3 linked regions of the Homo sapiens genome follow. The protein of the gene in region 1 interacts with the protein of each later gene in a pairwise test. Each region holds a gene or a part of one and is shown in the gene's direction. Other genes may lie near its edges. The genes, in order: GLYR1, CFAP206 and ARL16.

Region 1 (3,749 bases):
GAGGTGGCACCTGCCTACTATAGTCCCAGCTACTTGGGAGGCTGAGGCCAGAAGATCTCTTGGGCCCAGGAGGTAGAGGCTGCAGTGAGCTGTGATCATACCACTGCATTCCCACCTAGGCAGCAGCAAGACCCTGTCTCAGAAAAGAAAAAGGACAAAAAAATGGCTCACAAAAGAGGAAACAAAGGCATAAAAAATATTCGGTAATCAGGAGTAATTAAAATATATCAAACAAGGCCGGGTGCGGTGGCTCATGCCTATAATCCCAGCACTTTGGAAGGCAGAGACTGGGGGATAACGAGGTCAGGAGATCGAGACCTCGGTGAAACCCCGTCTCTACTAAAAATACGAAAAATTAGCCGGGCACAGTGGCGGGCGCCTGTAGTCCCAGCTACTCGGGAGGCTGAGGCAGGAGAATGGCGTGAACCTGGGAGGCAGAGCTTGCAGTGAGCTGAGATCGTGCCACTGCACTCCATCCTGGGCGACAGCGAGACTCTGTCTCAAAAAAAAAAAATGAAACAGTTGCCTTTTTTGACTGGTTAAATGATCAGGTAGGAAGAATTTTACATGTATTTATGGGCACTTATTTGTAGTTTTTAAATTACATACTTGGTACTGGCATAATAGGAGAGCTTGCTGGTGATCTTTATGAAGTGACATAGTCTCATTGGGAAGTCATCTGTCTACATTTGTTGAGAGCCTTAAAACTTTTAGAACCTGTTTTATTCTATTTGTGGAGACCTGAATTTAAAACATAGAGAAGTTTTGTACGTAAAGATGTTTGGTGATGTGATTTTACAATTGAAAGTGGGCTAAGTGTCAAACTACAGGTCAGCCATTAGGTAAATCACAGTATATCTCTCAGTGAAGTTTTCCATAGTCAACCACTATAAACCATAATTATGCCAGAATTATGAAAGACAACAATATAGATAAATGTGAATCATAAACAACATTAAAAGTCTGATAGAAAATAGTAGGCCCATCCAGCCTGGGCAACATGGTGAAACCCTGTCTCTACAGAAAAAAAAAAAAATCACACATGGGGCATGCACCTATAGTCCCAGCTATTCAGGAGGCTGAGGCAGGAGGATCACTTGAGTCCAGGAGGTTGAGGCTGCAGTGAGCCATGATTGCACCACTGTGCTCCAGCCTGGGTGACAGAGCAAAACCTTGTCTCAAAAAAAAAAAGCCAAAATGGTAGTGTTTTTAGGCACTTCCAGAAGTCTTATTAACCTGACAACAGTGTTGAGAAACAACCCAAAAACGAATGGCCACCAGGTGGAAGGCTTCCAGCGACATCCCCACATTCCCAGCAGAGTGTTGATAGCTCAGGGCCACAGCCAGGACAGCACAGCGGGGGCTGGGGAGAGGTGCTACTGTTCATACCCCATTCTTGAAACAGCATACCTTCAGCAGACACTTGTGAAGCAGTTCATCATCCTAGGCACTCGTCATGCAAAAACTGAAGATGGCCAGTAAAAGGCCCCGTGCACTTCCCCAAAAGTTGGGCTCCTATCTCCATGACCCAGGCTCCCGGCCTCAGCCTCCTGCCTTGGTAGGCCGCCAGGAGGCCTGGTCAGCAATTCTCTGGCCTGGCTGGCATGTTTGTTGTGCACTGCCTGCAGCTCACGTTAGGATCTGTGACTTTTGCAGTGTGATTTGTTCATCCAGGAGGGGGCCCGTCTGGGAAGAACCCCCGCTGAAGTCGTCTCAACCTGCGACATCACTTTCGCCTGCGTGTCGGATCCCAAGGCGGCCAAGGACGTAAGGACCCCCTCCCTCCCCTCAGCAACTCCGGGTCACAGCCAGGATTGCTGGCTGGCCTCTTCCCCTCCTCCCCTGCACACCAAGTGAGTGTCCACATGTGGGGGGCTGAATTTCCCATCAGGGGCCATCTCCCATTGTGAAGGGTGTTTGCATTAATTGAATACAGACTTCCTTTAATTCAGATCAAAGAATGAACACTACTAGGGCCCTTGAAGTCTGTGCTGAAATGTGTCTTGAACAGGCTTCATGTGTTCTTGTTGAACTAGAAGCTTTGGAACTGAATGTGCCTTTGGTCCAGGTGCCAAGCTTCTATGTTTAGCTGTCACTGTATTTGTATATTTTAGAAGTTCAAGTGTGGTAGTCATCTTATTAAACTGGTGACTAGCCTAATCCAAGTAAATCCAAAGAAGTCCCCAAAGTAAATGCTGAGGTTTATTCTTTTAAATGGGGTTTGTTTTTTTTTTTTTTTAAATAAAAAGAAATGCACACACTCACATAGATTCTTTTTAAAGATAAATGGGAGCATGCGGGAAGTACTTTTCTATCCCTTGCTTATTTCATTGTTCTTCCCTTTTCAGCTGATAGAAATCAGGAAATGAGCCAAAACAGCAGCAGGATTCTGATCTGAGGTCTGTAGGGCTCCTGAGCATCTGCCCGGGAGCCTGGGCTATTGCTTCTCCCTTGTGTCCCCACAGCTGGTGCTGGGCCCCAGTGGTGTGCTGCAAGGGATCCGCCCTGGGAAGTGCTACGTGGACATGTCAACAGTGGACGCTGACACCGTCACTGAGCTGGCCCAGGTAGCAGCCTTCCTTGGGCTGGCTCTCCAGCATCTTTTCTATCAGAGCCCAAGACCCAGGCTTACAAGAGTGGGCAGTTAAGTTACTCTAGAGCCAAAGCCAGAGAGGGAAGAGGAGAGGCGAGTAGCCTTGGGACTAGCCTATCCCGTGCTCCACCTTCAAACCGCAGCTAGTCTGAACAGCCATGGGCAGTCGCTGCATGGCTGGGATGGGCATCAAGTCCTGGAGCTGCCAGCCTTATGATGAGAAGCAACCCAGGCCGCCCGCCTGGCATTGGGGTTTGAGCAGCTGTCTGCATTTGACACTGGCAAAGCATCCCTCCTCCCCGAGCATCTGGCCCAAATAAGGGAGTGGGGACTTTGGGACCCACATATGTTCTGAGGGGAGGGCAGCATCCACAGGGGAGGTGTGTGTTCAGCCGAGCCATTGACATGGTCACATCTGGTTCTAGTTGTTGGTCTCTAAGAAATTCCAGTCCGGGCGCGGTGGCTCACGCCTGTAATCCCAGCACTTTGGGAGGCCGAGGTGGGCGGATCACGAGGTCAGGAGATCGAGACCATCCTGGCTAACACGGTGAAACCCCATCTCTACTAAAAATACAAAAAAATTAGCCGGACGCGGTGGCGGGCACCTGTAGTCCCAGCTACTTGGGAGGCTGAGGCAGGAGAGCGGCATGAACCCAGGAGGCGGAGCTTGCAGTGAGCTGTGATCGTGCCACTGCACTCCAGCCTGGGCAACAGAGCAAGACTCCGTCTCAAAAAAAAAAAAAAAAATTAGCCAGGCATGGTGGCGGTTGCCTGTAGTCCCAGCTACTGAGGAGGCTGATGCAGGAGAATGGCATGAACCCGGGAGGCAGAGTTTGCAGTGAGCTGAGATTGCGCCACTGCACTCCAGCCTGGGCAACAGAGCAAGACTCTGTCTCAAAAAAACAAAACAAAAAAATTCCGGCCAGGCGTGGTGGCTCACTCCTGTAATCCAAGCACTTTGGGAGGCCGAGGCGGGCGGATCACAAGGTCAGGAGATCAAGACAATCCTGGCTAATATGGTGAAACCTGTCTCTACTAAAAATACAAAAAATTAGCCAGGCGTGGTGGTGGACGCCTGTAGTCCCAGTTACTCGGGAGGCTGAGGCAGGAGAATGGCATGAACCCGCGAGGCGGAGCTTGCAGTGATCCGAGATCG
Region 2 (3,749 bases), on another chromosome or scaffold:
TTCAGTGACCTTTAATATCTGCAGAAATGAGTTTTATCTCTGTCTTTTTCATGTAGTCCTTGCTGTCTAATTTACTTGCCATTTACTTGTATGGTACAGTATTATTAACTATCTTTTTAGCATTTTTAAAATCTACCTAAATATATCATAAGATAATTTTATAGTCAGAAATTATATCAAATGTTAGACACTCAGTGATTATCTGTTGTTTGGAAAGAATATCTTCTCCCTCCTTTTTACTGTGACCTAAGTACCTTAAACCTCTACCACTCCCTCCAACAACGTCAACAATGTCATGTCCAGCACCATCATGTCTTGTTTAGCCTGGAATTAGTGAATTCTTAATATTGGGTTCCCCAAAAGAAAATCAGTATATTCAACTAAAAACAAAGCAAAAACCTTGGATAATAACCTGCTATGTATGCATAGCTTGAGTTCAACATATGTCTTAAAGAGGTTTTGATAGTTCAAATAGATGTGATTTTTACCTAATAAAGCTATTTTCAATTTCTATCCATTTTCAACAGGTATTTACTCATGTTATCAGTTGTGCAAAGTGGGGAGGGATATTTGACTTGGGAATGAGGGATGTTTTCTCCTTCCAAAATACATGTTCTACAGAAAACCAAACACTGCATGTTATCATTTATAAGTGGGAGCTAAAAATTGGGTACACATGGACATAAAGATGGGACCAGTAGACACTGGAGACTGCAACAGTGGAAAGAGTGGGAGGGGGGCATAGGCTGAAAAATGAACTAGTGGGTACTGTGGTCACTACCTGGGTGATGGGTTCAATCCTGCCTCGAATCTCAGCATTGTGCAATATACCCTTGTAACAAACCTGCACATGTGCCCCCTTGAATCTAAAATAAAAGTTAAAAAAAAACACCCCCTACATTAACAAAATCACGAAGCCATAATTCCCAGAAAAACAATTATATTCAGCTCATTAATTATGTGTTTATTTTCTTTATTGGTATTTACAAGTATATTCCATGTCCAAAAATTATTGTTTTTTAAGTGTTTTGTTAGTTTTAGCTAAATATTTTAGTTATCAGTAAATAATGTTTATTTTTTACAAGCACTAACTACAAAACTCCACTTCTTTAGATGAGAGATGCTGACAAACATTATATAAAACCAATTACAAAATGTGAAAGTAGCACACAGACGAATACACACATACTGCCACCAACGATTGTGAGATCATATGAGTGGAATGAATGGGAATTAAGAAGAAAAGCTATAAAATTGGTTTGTAACAATACTTTCTAGAATTATTTATATGTTGGGGAATTTTAATCTATTGTTACTCATAGAGTTGGTAAATTAAATTATTTATATAAAATAATGAGTTTTATACAGAGTTCTTTGCTAACAAAAATATAATTTATAACTTGCTAGGTTTACATTATAAGATTGTCTTCTAATTTTAAGCATATATAGAACAATGATAATATCTATATATCTATCTGTCTATCATCAGTTTTAAAACTTGGTGCTAGTATTTAAAGCACTCCCAACTTCCTTTAATCACTTAAGGTATACCATTCTTTTTTTTGTTTGTTTTTTGGACCTTTTCTATTAAAGCATAGATATTTTCCCCTCAACAACATATTATCTCCAGACCCTGGGCACTCTCATCCTTCTGATTCTCAGTCACCTTAATTACAATATAGATACCTACCCTTAAAGCCTGTCTTTGAAACTCTCATCCCTGTCCAACTGAGTGAAATTACCCCCACCATCCCCTCTTTATGGTATCTTGTCATTTTAAACAACAAATATTTATAGTATGGAAAAAATAAAATATTTTGTCTGTAGCCCCTTTTTAGTATATTTTATCCATCTCTTTAACTGAAATCAGGTGTGGAAATAAACAATGCCTACCCAAATGAGAACAAAGCAAGGCTATTTATTTAGAGCTTACTGTAGCAAGGGAGTCAGACACTGTCACTTGTGTTTGGTAGACTCAAAGCATGCAGGGGAGTGGGAAAGCTTTATAGTCAGAAAAGGGGGAAGCCTTCAGATGTTCTCTGATTGTAGTTTGTTAACATGAGAAAGCTGGAAGCAGGCTAACTAGAAGCAGGGCATTTTATGAGATTGGTTTGGTGAGCATATCTAGGTTTCTCTGGTTGGTCCTGAGTTGGGGCAGAAGGGGCCAAAAAATGGAGAAGTTGGCTAAGTCTTCAACATTCTGGGTCAACTGCTACAGCTATAGAGGTTGAGACTGGCTTCCCTGACTGGTTGATGTACAGGCTGCAAGTCAAAGAGTTCTATTGTCATATATGGTCTAGCCTTTGTCCATTTGTATATTCAGTCCATTTGTATATTCAGTCCCACTGACCACATTATTTCCTTTGCTACTCACTCTGGTGGCAGCTTTTCAGTTCCCTGGCATGAGGAAGGATCAGTTTCCCCATATATCTTCCAGATCATTGTTCCATTAGTATTCCTTCCTATCAGTTACTCTCCTGTAGTTCATGAAATGCCCAACCCCCATATTATTTTCTATTATCTACTAAACTCACTTGAGTTCATTAGATTTATTGGGTAACATATATATCCCACTACTTTGTTCTAGCAAGTGATACTGTTACATTAAAAATATTTCAGTACCTCCTTGTAAGTGGTACCTCCTTGTAAGTGGTGTAACAGAAGTGAAATGAAAATTCTACTAAATTAACATAGGTGATATTTTATGTTGCTTTTGAGATACAAATAGGCAAAGAGGAGGAGGGAAGTGATGGCTGGATAGGATAGGAGAGATAGAGGTGACAGCATAGGTATGGACTGGAAATGTTAAGAGAATGGGGTATTCAGGGGTCTGAACTTCATACTGACTGAGCCCTCTCTTCCCATTCCTCAATCTCCACTTAATTCTGACTCTCACCTTGGGCCTTATTATTCCCTAGAACTGTATTATATTGAATGCCAGCTCCCCAAGTGTCACCTACCTAACCTGTGGATAAGACAAAGCTGAGTTTATTGCTTACAGCCATAAGGGAAAACACCACCTCAACAGTGCTTTGGCAGTGTCTCAGAAGAGGAACTGCAAAGTCAGAATTGATTGAGAATTTGAAGTTTGCTAAGGCAGGTCTTCCAATGACTGAGGTGGACTGGGGGTAGGATGGAGGTTTGAATCGGATTGGGTAAGGATCATGAAAAAGCAGTCCAGCATTGGTGGGAATAGCAAGAAGATTTTTTGAGGCAAGGGATGCAGACTCTTAGGACTGAAACTGTGTTTTGATGCTTACTACTGAAGAGTTGACACATCTCTCAGGTACTACTGAAATGAGCAATCAAGTTATTTGCTTAGGCAAGAGTCTCTTGGAATGGTAAAATCATGCTAATGAAGACAATGGAATAGTAAAGTCATATTAATGTGGACAATAACCTGGGTATTGGGGAGTAGTTTCGGTTCTCAGTCACCTGCAGTATCTCAAACTCTGAAATGTTTCCTCTAATTCCAGGTGTCACCTTCTTCACTCACATGCTATAATGCCTTTTGAGTTTTTTCTTGGCTTTTACTATAAGTGCAGCAACCTTATTCTTCTTTTTATAAGCTCCTCCTTGCTTCCCAGCCTGAGTAATCTGTTTAACCTCATGTTTACTAATAATCTATAAAGGGAGTAAGCAAAATGTAGAATACTGTAAAATACAAAATGGAAAGCATCAGACTCTTTTATGTTAAAAATCTAGGGTGAAGTCCATTTTTAAAAGATAATACTGTATAAATCTTATAT
Region 3 (3,749 bases), on another chromosome or scaffold:
AAAATCCTAGCATGTAGCCCATGCAGTTCTCCACATAAGAGCCTAACACGGTCAGCTACGTCGTGGAGACCCAACGGGCACCAAGCGAGCCCAGCTTAGTGCACGGCTGCTCCTCCGCATCAGGGCACAGGCCCCGCTAACTCACTGTGTGTCCCCTTGGCGGATCAGGTCGCAGATCTGCAAAATGGACTCCCAATCTGTCTCCAACAGGAGCTGGCTGGTCGCCTTGTCTGAGAGAGAAAATGCCATGAAAGGGAGGGGTTATCCTGCTGGACGCCCCGTGCAGCACCCCAGCTTGGCAGCAGCTGGGGGGGACTCTCTCCTTCCCCTTTAGACATTTGGACCAAATGAAAAAGCATGACAGAATCCTCCTGAGCGTGCTGATGGGCAGGGAAGTGCCATCCTCCCCAGGGAAGCAGCAAACAGCGTAAGAGCACACCAGGTGCTGGTCCAAGCCCTCCCACAACCCGCGAGCGAGGTAAAGACACTCAGCAGAGAGGCGAGGGCACTGCCGTGAGTCACACAGCTCACCAGAGACAGAGGCTGATTCACTCTTAAACATCAGGCTCGGCTGCTTCTCAACAAAGAACCCTATCACCCGTCCCTTGGAGTCCCCGTTCGCCCAGATGCTCCCGGTTTCAATGGGACCTTAGCTTGGGCAAGGGCTAGAGAGGCCTGCAGTGTAGACTCCAGGCCCCTTGCTCCAAGCCAAGTGCTTTGGAAATAAGGGCAGAACGGGGCTCCAAGGAGGACTCGCCAGCATACCTGTCATCATACCACATCACTGCTGTCTCCAACAACTGGCCCCTCTGGGGGGGCAGCTCCAGCTCTGCCCACATCGCCTTTCCCGGATACAGAAACGATCTAACAAGCCAAGCCACGTCCACTTTCTATACTGATTCAGTAGTTAACCTCTGGATTCATCCCTGAAGCACTGAACTACCTGTGTGGCTGAGATACTCAGTCTGCTTGCTGGTTCCCTTGGCAAGGAAGGTGTCTCACTTGAAGTCTCCTTGAAAACCCTACTTGACAAAAAGGCAAGCTTGGGCAGCCCATTCGACCACCCAAGCTCCTACCCCCAAACATTAGACGCATTTTCCACGTGCTGCTGGGCACGTGCACATCAACATTCGTTTCCCTCCCAAAACGCGTCAATTCCAGGAGGCTCAGATAGGATCAGCTTTCACCTCCAAAAACGTGAGAAAACGCCTTCCTAAACCATTAGGCACTTCCCGAAGCCAGTGTGGGAACAAAAGGTGGGTCTGGGACCCGCAGCCCCCAAGAGAGCTCGAAGGTCCCAGAGAGAACACTGCCGGCTCCACCCTTCGAGGCCCAGTGTTTTGGGTCAGAAGCCCAAGTGCGAGCCTAACATCCGACTGAGTCACCCACTTTCATGACTCAGGCCTTGTGGCCCACTCGGCCGGGTGCTCGTCGGTCAAGAGGAAATCGGCCGAATGCCCGGGCCCGCGGAGGAGCGAGGTCGCCGAGCGCCCCTGGCGCCCTGCGCGGACCCTCGCAGAGCCCCATTTGCCAACGCCCGACGGACGCCGACCCCACGGCCGCGCCGAGGGTCCAGGATCGGCGGCTCCGAACCCGGGAGGACAGCGGGCCGGGGAGAGGCGGGCAGGGCGGCCGGTCCGCGCCCCTCGGGCCCTCGGGGCCGCGCTGACTCAGCGCCGGGCGGAGGCTGCGGGCTGACCAAGGCCGAGCCGTCGGGTGGGGACGCGTTACCTAGGAGACGCTCGAAGGTGCCGCTGCCTCGCCCCATGGCGACCTCCAGCCCAAACCCGACGCCGCGGGCGCTCCCCTGCTACGAGCTGGCGCGCCCCCCGACTTCCGCTTCCGCCTTTTCCCTCCAGTGCGCGCACGCGCACGTCACCGCGCCGGCCCTAGAGCCGCGAGGAGGCGGGGTCTTCCGCTCTCCCGCTAACGCTGCGCGCTAATTGGACGCGCCCTTGGAACAATGAGCCCTAAGAACCAATGAGAAGTCCGAAGGTGAGAACTATCCAATGAGAGTGGCCGGTGGGCGGGCCTTGAGCCGCGGCGCCGAGCTACGGGTGCCGGGTGGAGCGAAGCACGGAATGTGTCTCCTGCTGGGGGCCACGGGCGTCGGGAAGACGCTGCTGGTGAAACGGCTGCAGGATATCCTTCCGCGCGGGGACGGGACCGGGGCGCGGGGGGCACCCGGAGTGGGGCGGGGACTCACCCTTTAGCTGCTCGGGTCCTTGACCGCTTCGCACAGGTGAGCTCCCGGGATGGGAAAGGCGACCTGGGGGAGCCGCCCCCGACACGGCCCACGGTAGGTGTCCGCCCCCGCGGGTGGAGTTGCGGGGGGTCAGTTCTGCGCTTGGCGAAGAGCTCCGGGCTCCTCTAAGTGCACGCCGAGGCGCAGCGGGTCAGGTCGTGACTTAAGGCCAGCCTTCGGGAGCGGGGGACGGCCCGAGCTGAGGATAATTGGCGCGGGATGAGGGGGCCTGCCGCCCTCCACGGGCACTTCCTCTCCCCTCGCAACGGCTTCCTGTGGCTGGTCGCCCCCACAGCGAGTCCAGCTACTGATGGGCGTCGGTCCCTGCTCGCCGTTCCTGCGTTAGGGAGAATGGGTCTGCGGGGTTCAGGCCACCGTGTAAGGTGTGGGCACGGTGCTCTTCAGGAGTTCACAACGGGACAGCGGTTGTATTGTTCTTTTTGCATCGTGGTTTTTCCTATAGGTGGGCACCAATCTTACTGACATCGTGGCACAGAGAAAGATCACCATCCGGGAGCTTGGGGGGTGCATGGGCCCCATCTGGTCCAGTTACTATGGAAACTGCCGTTCTCTCCTGGTGGGTTGTAATCCTATATGGGCTTCCTTTAGGGAAGTGTGTCTACATTTCTGTGACGTCCAGTCCCCAACCTTGCTGTGTGTAGAAAGGGGTTTGGGTTATTTAGTGACTATACTACTCATGGAAATAGGTCTTAGCTAGTGTTGCTTCCTGCTGGGCACCCTGTCTGGTTTCTGGTGCTTGCGCTCCCAGGCCCCCGGTAGGAGCTCACAGAGGGCTTGCTGAGGGCAGGGCTGCTGCTCCGCAGAGAACAGACTTGGCCCTCTGTGTCACTCCCCGGTACGTCTGTGTTTATGTTGGACTTATACGTACCTCTGGTTGGTCTCATCTTGATAAGGCCTGTGCCGCGGATACCAGTATGGAGAACTGATGGCCACATGAGGACAGAGACGAGTGACACCAGGTCGTCTTCATAAAACTCGATTCCCTCTGCTTCTGCTTGTTCCCAAAGCTTTGTTTAAAGCTACTTTGGGCCGGGCGCGGTGGCTTACTCCTGTAATCCCAGCACTTTGGGAAGCTGAGGTGGGCGAATCACGAGGTCAGGAGATGGAGACCATCCTGACTAACATGGTGAAACCCCGTCTCTACTAAAAGTACAAAAAATTAGCCAGGCGTGGTGGCGGGTGTCTGTAGTCCCAGTTACTTGGGAGGCTGAGGCAGGAGAATCACTTGAACCCTGAACCCTGGAGGCGGAGTTTCAGTGAGCCGAGATCGTGCCACTGCACTCGGAGCGAGACTTCGTCTCAAAAAATAAATTAATTAATTAAAAAATGCAGTTTTGCTCTCCCAGTGCCAGGTCTGTGAGGCCCAGGGGAGGAAGTTTGGCAGCGGGGCATTGCTGCTGTCTTTTTCTTTTTCCCCAGTTTGTGATGGACGCCTCTGACCCCACCCAGCTCTCTGCATCCTGTGTGCAGCTCTTAGGTCTCC

What was found.
Region 2: the proteins of GLYR1 (region 1) and CFAP206 interact in binary tests that used the Homo sapiens proteins (3 or more experiments, as listed by UniProt).
Region 3: the proteins of GLYR1 (region 1) and ARL16 interact in binary tests that used the Homo sapiens proteins (3 or more experiments, as listed by UniProt).

What each region holds. Positions count from the first base shown.
Region 1 is NC_000016.10:4,812,555-4,816,303, reverse strand, and holds part of GLYR1 (cytokine-like nuclear factor N-PAC), read left to right. Parts: intron 1-1,656; coding exon 1,657-1,767; intron 1,768-2,348; exon of another isoform or gene 2,349-2,465; coding exon 2,466-2,567; intron 2,568-3,749. UniProt on the Homo sapiens protein: Cytokine-like nuclear factor with chromatin gene reader activity involved in chromatin modification and regulation of gene expression. Acts as a nucleosome-destabilizing factor that is recruited to genes during transcriptional activation.
Region 2 is NC_000006.12:87,459,909-87,463,657, forward strand, and holds part of CFAP206 (cilia- and flagella-associated protein 206), read left to right. Parts: intron 1-1,113; coding exon 1,114-1,257; intron 1,258-3,749. UniProt on the Homo sapiens protein: Essential for sperm motility and is involved in the regulation of the beating frequency of motile cilia on the epithelial cells of the respiratory tract. Required for the establishment of radial spokes in sperm flagella.
Region 3 is NC_000017.11:81,682,086-81,685,834, reverse strand, and holds the start of ARL16 (ADP-ribosylation factor-like protein 16), read left to right. Parts: upstream 1-2,037; 5' UTR 2,038-2,081; coding exon 2,082-2,142; exon of another isoform or gene 2,143-2,240; coding exon 2,241-2,299; intron 2,300-2,708; coding exon 2,709-2,822; intron 2,823-3,159; exon of another isoform or gene 3,160-3,592; coding exon of another isoform or gene 3,593-3,685; coding exon 3,686-3,749. Other genes in the region: HGS (hepatocyte growth factor-regulated tyrosine kinase substrate), read right to left, coding at 146-230, 1,732-1,768. UniProt on the Homo sapiens protein: May suppress the RNA sensing activity of RIGI in a GTP-dependent.